Linked DNA regions of Homo sapiens. The protein of the gene in region 1 purifies or fractionates together with the protein of each later gene. This does not show direct contact. Each region holds a gene or a part of one and is shown on either strand. Other genes may lie near its edges.

The links.
Region 2: the proteins of SH3BGRL3 (region 1) and PCP4 purify together in Homo sapiens (co-immunoprecipitation; 2 studies listed by BioGRID and IntAct, with this or other methods). This does not show direct contact.

What each region holds. Positions count from the first base shown.
Region 1 is NC_000001.11:26,278,477-26,282,154, forward strand, and holds SH3BGRL3 (SH3 domain-binding glutamic acid-rich-like protein 3), read left to right. Parts: upstream 1-1,609; 5' UTR 1,610-1,679; coding exon 1,680-1,727; intron 1,728-2,288; coding exon 2,289-2,456; intron 2,457-2,581; coding exon 2,582-2,647; 3' UTR 2,648-3,046; downstream 3,047-3,678. UniProt on the Homo sapiens protein: Could act as a modulator of glutaredoxin biological activity. May play a role in cytoskeleton organization.
Region 2 is NC_000021.9:39,865,296-39,869,043, forward strand, and holds the start of PCP4 (calmodulin regulator protein PCP4), read left to right. Parts: upstream 1-2,142; 5' UTR 2,143-2,206; coding exon 2,207-2,215; intron 2,216-3,748. UniProt on the Homo sapiens protein: Functions as a modulator of calcium-binding by calmodulin. Thereby, regulates calmodulin activity and the different processes it controls.

The DNA of each region.
Region 1 (3,678 bases):
CTTTGGGCTGTTGGCAGCATCTTGGACCTCATGCCTGGGCCTGAATGAGGCTCTTTCTTAAGTGTTTTTACAAGTTTGTGTTTTATTTATGGAGTGACTTATCCCTTCCATTCAGAGCAGCCCCACCCAGCCAGCCCTTCAGCCTCTGGGCTCCTGCTGCTTAAAGGCAGAGCCGCCTGGTTGGTCTCCACCCTGTGCATTGGGAGCCCAGCCACCATGCTGACGGGTATTTTTCCTCATAAAGTTTATAACCAGTTATTTATATGAATCTTTGTTATGTCCATTTGTTTGTATTGCGTATTTTGATTATAAAATAAAGTATCTTAACAGACTCCTCAGTTTTCCATACCCTTCCATCACCACCACCACGCTATTCTACCCCTCACTTTGGCTTGTTAGAGCCAAACACCTGGGTGTTCAGCCAGGTCCCCCAGGCAGCAGCGTGGAGGAACCTTTGGCAGGTCCAGCCAGCCTCATGTCCCTATCTATCTCTGCCACCTCTGCTCCTCTGTCGTTCTATAGAACCAGATCTCTTCCCACTCACTTTCTCTTGGGCAAACCTTCCCTGAGTCATAACAGAAGTTTGTCACTGGAAAGTTTCAGCAGTCCTCTCAGGAAGTTGGCAGCCTCTGGGTTGCTGTGAGGAAGTGGCTTTACCAGAGCAAGGGTTGTCTTTCTGGGCTGTTAACCTGCCTGAGCCCTGGACCAGGGGGACATCTGAGAAGCATGATGTTGAGTGCCAGACAGCTAGGTCTCCAAAGTTGGGCTCGTTGCTGGAGTCTGCCCCCTCAACCGCTGAATTCTTGCTGGGAGTAGTAGCAGTTTGGGAATGCCATCTGCAGCATGGAGCTGGGGTTGAGCTTGGACCACCCCAAGACCTGGGGTGGATCTTAAGGGTCAGCTTGAGCCTAGGCTCTCGAGTCCTGACATCATCCTCTACCGCCACGCTTTCCAGCTGTCAGCCTTGGTCTCCATCTGGTTCCTTGAGGGTGTGGCCTCTGCGTCCTGCTATCACCCTTCCTTGTCTAAACCTTCCCACCTGAGTGGAGAGGAACTTGGGGGAAAATCTCTAAGCATGGGCTCTTCCTGCTGTCCTATGCTTCCTATCCCCTAGGGTTAGTGGTGCGTGTTGGGTGGTGGAGCGAGGGATCCCTTGGAGCAAGGTTCTTAGAGAACTTTGGGTCTGAAAGCAGCTCAAACCTTCCAAAGCCCCAAGCTTCCCTGTGCTATTAGAGCACCTCCTCCTGGAGAGAGCGGCTCTCGTGGCTGGGGAGTTGGATGCACCAAACCTGTGTGCGGCTGGAGAGGGAGGCTTCTGCCAGACCCTCTCCCGGGCCTGTCCTGCCACCCAGGCCCCTCCCCAGTCTCACACTGAGCTCCAGATCAGGGAAGGGCCGAAAAGGACGATCAGGGCAGCCGCAGAAGGGGCGCCCTGCGTGGGACGGGTCCGTTGCGCGCCTGGTAACCGAGGGGGAAGGGAAGGGGCCTCTGGCGTGCGGGGCGGTGTCGCGCAGGTCCCACCCCGCCTGCCCGCGCCGCCCATTGGTCCCGAGCGCGATGACTTGGCGGGCGGAGCAGGAAGGAAACCGCTCCCGAGCACGGCGGCGGCGTCGTCTCCCGGCAGTGCAGCTGCCGCTACCGCCGCCCTCTGCCCGCCGGCCCGTCTGTCTACCCCCAGCATGAGCGGCCTGCGCGTCTACAGCACGTCGGTCACCGGCTCCCGCGAAGTAAGTGCGCGCCCGGACTGGCGCTGGGGGAAAGCGCAGGGCTGTATCCCGGTGCTTTGGACCCTAGCGCCCGGGACCCACCCCCAGGACGGGGGCGGGGTGGGGGGAGTGCGTCGGCGAGGTGCTGGGCACGGTCTCCCGGACCCGGTCCCGAGGCCCCATCCTGAATGTCTTCATCGGGCATCCTGGGTCCTTTGCAGCCGCGGCATGAACTTCCCGTGCCCATCCCCCATCAACCCCACACCCATTCTCTGCACTCCCACTACCGGGCTGACCCTGACCACGACCGCAGCCTGCCCTCCCCTCCCCTCCCCACCCTGAGCCTGATCCCACTTCCCTTCACTCTGACCCCCTCCCCCGTGGCTGATAATCCCTCTCTTCATCCTGCACCACCTCAAGCCTGACTCATCCTCCCAACTCCTAGAGGCCAGAACCCTCCCCTAGTGTGGAGGGGAATGGGGGGACAAAAGCTCCTGGTCACAGCCTCTCTCACCCTGCCCAGCATTTCCCCCATAAATCCTCCAGCCTATCCACTAACCCCTACCCACCCTCTGTCCCCAGATCAAGTCCCAGCAGAGCGAGGTGACCCGAATCCTGGATGGGAAGCGCATCCAATACCAGCTAGTGGACATCTCCCAGGACAACGCCCTGAGGGATGAGATGCGAGCCTTGGCAGGCAACCCCAAGGCCACCCCACCCCAGATTGTCAACGGGGACCAGTACTGTGGGGTATGGGCTGGGGGACGGGGGGGTGGGGGGAGTGTTGGAAGAGGACTCTAGCCAGGGTCATATCTGCCACAAAGCACTTGGGCCCCCTGCATTCAGGTGACCACCCCTCGCCTCCCCTTCTCCAGGACTATGAGCTCTTCGTGGAGGCTGTGGAACAAAACACGCTGCAGGAGTTCCTGAAGCTGGCTTGAGTCAAGCCTGTCCAGAGTTCCCCTGCTGGACTCCATCACCACACTCCCCCCAGCCTTCACCTGGCCATGAAGGACCTTTTGACCAACTCCCTGTCATTCCTAACCTAACCTTAGAGTCCCTCCCCCAATGCAGGCCACTTCTCCTCCCTCCTCTCTAAATGTAGTCCCCTCTCCTCCATCTAAAGGCAACATTCCTTACCCATTAGTCTCAGAAATTGTCTTAAGCAACAGCCCCAAATGCTGGCTGCCCCCAGCCAAGCATTGGGGCCGCCATCCTGCCTGGCACTGGCTGATGGGCACCTCTGTTGGTTCCATCAGCCAGAGCTCTGCCAAAGGCCCCGCAGTCCCTCTCCCAGGAGGACCCTAGAGGCAATTAAATGATGTCCTGTTCCATTGGCACTGTGTCTGGTTGGTTGTGGCCTGGGCCTCCTGGGTCCCTGCCCTGGGCAAGGTTGGTAGTTGTGACTGTGCTGAGACTGCTCTGTGGGAAGGGTGGCTGAGCTGTTCTCTTGTGACTGTCACCTCTGTGTTTGTTAGTGCATGTGTTTGGATATGTCTGACACACAAATACCTGTATGGACCAGTGGTTTCTGGAGATGTCTGGGTGGGCCACCCTCCAGTTCACATGCATGTGTCCATATCATGCTTGTGCCTTGGTGTGTAGTGCACATCTCCATGCCTGTCAGTGAGTGTGGCCATCCCATGCGCCTGTGTTGGAGCACAATGGCTAAGAATGAGTGTATCATGGGAGGTGGGTACCCAGCTGCAGTTCTGCTAATTTGGGGGCATGGGTCTAGTGGCAAAATGGCTTTGTGCGGTGTTGAAGTGTCCCCACGAGTTGGTGGGTCTGTGCCTGTGCACAGGTATCTGCTGGCTGCACACATACACAGTGAGGCTCTGCTGTCCCAGCTGAGAATGTAAACCCAGCTGGGGCCAGCTCCTTCCCCCCACTGCATCCCTCCCTTCACAGGATCCACTTAGCCCTTCTTGGGAGAAAGAGGAACCTAGAAGACAAAGACCCAGCAGCCAGG
Region 2 (3,748 bases), on another chromosome or scaffold:
ACCCTAGTGACCTTGTTTTAACTTAATCACCTCTTTAAAGACCTTTTCTCCAAATAAGGTCACATTTTGAGATATTGAGGGTTAGGACTTGAATGTATGAATTCTGGAGGAAGGCAATCAGCTCAGACCATAACCCATTCTCCCCAATAGTCTTCATAGTCCCTTGGTTGGTCCCAAAGAATTGCTGAGTCTACCCAGCAAAGCCTCAGCCCAGCCCTGCACCTCCAATCCTGCCCCTCTACTTGGAGCCTCAGCACTAATTGCTGTGCTGCCAACCTCAGGCTGCTGCAGCCCTTGATGTGTCTTTGTGTTGTTAGAAAATGCAGGTCTGCTCCAGAGCCAGCCAGCAGAGCACAGGCTGATTCTCCACATGCCCTCTGCACAGCCTGGAGGACCACAGCAGGGACCCCATGGAGGCTCACACTGGGAGACCCCTTCTACACCTCCAGGCTGTGGGGGTCCAGCCCCCAACAGGGCAGGAGGCCCCTGGGGAGGGTGTGGTTTTTGCCCCTGAGAAATCACAGGTGTCTCCTAGTATAGATAAGCAAGCACCCTTCTTCCAATCTGTCAATCTGTCCTACATCGCAGATGACACTATGGCTCCAGTTCCTCACCCTGCCCTCCTCCTCCTTCTCTCCCACTACTAACCACCTGGGCAACCCTAAAGGCATCCCACGTGGGCCTTCCCAAGCGTGGCATTGGGGGCAAGGAGGAGGAGGGGAGTGAGAGAAGGAGGATGCTGTCTTCATTAGTTTGCAAATGATTTGTGTGGTCAGGATATGTAAATAAATAATTTATATACATATAAAAGAAACGAATATAACACACATATTTTATATAATATATATAATGTTCATTTCTGTCGCTCTGTGAAATATAGGTTATTTTATAATAACTCATGTATGAGACTCTGTCTTGCTGGCTGGTGTTCCCACGCTGTGGGCGAGGGTGCTGACCAGCTGGTGCTCCTGGCCAAGGCCTCTGAGGGCAGCCTGTGCTCGCCGGTGCCCATTTGGGGGCGCATGGCCTTCTGCTTGCTGTCCAAGGTGGACCTGAGGATGTGGTCGCATCGGTGACCTGGGCATGTAAGGAGGGCAGTCCAGGTCAGAGGGCGTGGGGCTGCTGAGCTGAGGAGAGAGGGTTGATGGGCTGGAGTCTGGTGGCCTGCTCTGCACAGGGAGATGAGGGGTGCTGGGGACGGGTGGCAAGACGCTTCAATCTTCTCGCCAGACCCTCTCAGTCCTGTACCGGGACTGGCAGAGTAACAGATGTGAATGTGCCTTCAGTCTGCACAACGCTTTTTTGGGACAGTTGAGGGCCCACTCTGATGCCTTGAAGACTCTTCAGAGCCTCACGATGTTGGGACTGAACAAAGGATGGAACCTCTTCCCGGAAAAGCTGAACAGGACTAAGGCAAGGAGACCTTCAACCAGGCCAGGGCCAATGCCCAGGCTCCTTCCTGGCCCCACTGTGGTTGTGAGGAGGGCACATCAGCAAGGCTGCTGGAGCCGCTCGCCTCCTTTGTTGAGGTCGTGGGGACCCATTCCCATGTCCCAGTCCATCTACTCTTATCCTTCCAGCTCAGGGTACAAGCAGGGCGACAGATATGGGATAGGGGAGAGACAGCAGAGATATTAAAGTCCTTGGGCTGAGTTTTGTGTTATAAAGGGCAAGGGAAACACAGCTCCTGGGAAAACCTGAAAGTGCGTGAGCGGGCACGCAGGTATTTTCAGAGCTCCTCTTCCCTTAGAAAAACAATCCTTCCCATTGACATTTGAAAGGTATTTTACATGCATGTAAATCTTGCACTCATTGAAAAACGCACAATGGCATCCCTGTGATGATCTTTGAAACTTTAGCTTTTACTTTTTACTTTTTTTTTTTTTTTAAAAGAGACAGGGTCTCGTTCTGCTGCCCAGGCTGGAGTGTATTACTTTTTAAAGAAATCGAGCATTTCCTTCCATCCTGGCGGAATTTGGAGCAGCGACCTAACGTGCCGTTCTCTTTTGCACCACTAGGTGGCCCCTGGTGCTCTCAGATGTCGGCCAGGCTTGCAGACAGGTGAATGCATCTCATTGGCTCCAGGGAGGCATGATGCCACCGGGCAGCTCTTTTTAAGAGAAAAGCCAGAACCGGTGGAGCAGCGACCCCTGAGCAGTGTTCTCTGTGCTGAGCGGCGGGACTGAGCTGTTGAGTTAGAGCCAACATGAGTGAGGTGAGTGATGCTTCGACCTGGAGAGGGAAACTTAGGAGTGAGAAGGGACCTCGGCTGAAGGATTAGTCTCAGGAAATGTGAGGGACTTAGCAGTGCTGAGGAACAAATTAATCCTGTAATTATTTGCTTGGAGAACTGACAGGATTAATCTCTTGGTTTGAATGGTAAGTGCAGAAATTGGTTAAGTTTGCAACTTCTACAATTAGCCTGAGGAGGAGAAAGGTTTGCTTTCTGATTGAATGGTGACTTTGAAAAGTGCTTTGGGTTTTAGAGCTCAGAAGAGAAAGCCAAATGTTTTATTCTCTTACGAAGATGCGTGTCTTTGCATGATTCCCGCGGTGATACCTTTCAGAATGTGAGTGGGCAGGTGGTCATCTGGTGAATGCAAGCCATGGAAGGGAAGGGGACAAGGTGGGGAAAGGGCTGGCCGTTGGGTGGCATTTCATGGCTCAGTTGTACAAACTACCTCTGCAGTTAATCAGAGCACCAGGGAAAGAAATGCAAAAAGTAGTAGGAACTGGGAAACATCCGTGTGTATAGATCTGTGGCTCTAAGACCGGAGGCGGCCCCGGCAGAAGAAGAGCTACAATTTTGCAAATCCAAAGTCACTTCTCTAAACTTGTTTATACAGAATGTGTTTTACTGGGGCCAACTGACAGCACGTTTGTTTTTCTAAAATCATCTTCTCCTTTTTTCTCATCTATGAAGCAGATTAGCGGTGGTACAACACCATTCTCTAATTCAACTCAATAACCGAGCCAAATGCATCTTCATTTCCTCTTGGTTGGCACTTAAATAATTACTTTTAAAGATCTTTTATCTTCTCTGTCTCTTTTTGACAGATGGATGATTCTTTTCTTGGAAGTCTAGGATAAAATTAACAACTTCAGAAATAAAATGCCTCCTCCCTGCTTTTATCTCTCTGATGGGTGATTTTTGATGTAAACATGACAAGAAGAAGAGCAAAGCACTATAAAACTTAGAAATGGGGTTTAGGACAAAGCCAGGGGTTTGAGGCAGGGAGAGACCAACTGTGGGGTGGAAGATGGGAATTCTCCCACCACCACAATCAATGGTACCTGTAACAGCAGCTAACACTTGCCTAATGGTCTGTGTGCCGACAGTGTCAGGCTGTCTCTGCATCTGTCACCTTCTTTGAACCTCTCAACAACTCCGTGCAGTGGGCACCATTATTATTCCCAATTGACAGATGAGGACACTGAGGCACAGAGATGGGAACTAAGTGGTTTGAGGTCACCAGCTAAAGAACAGTAGAGCCAAGACTTGGGCTGCAATGCTGGGTGGTTGACTGCCGGGTGAATCTTGATGTCTAAATGTGTATGGAATTTGCTGAACAGAGGGGATGGCAGAGGTTGGAGGAGGAGAGGGGAGGTGAAGAGAAAGAAAGAAAGGAGCTGGGGCTCTGAAATAGAGATGGAATGATGAGGATGAGACCTCCATTTCCCACATGCTAGGAGGAGGGGCTTTCTGCTGGACTCTACAGATATTTCAGAAGCTTCTGTGTCCACATCA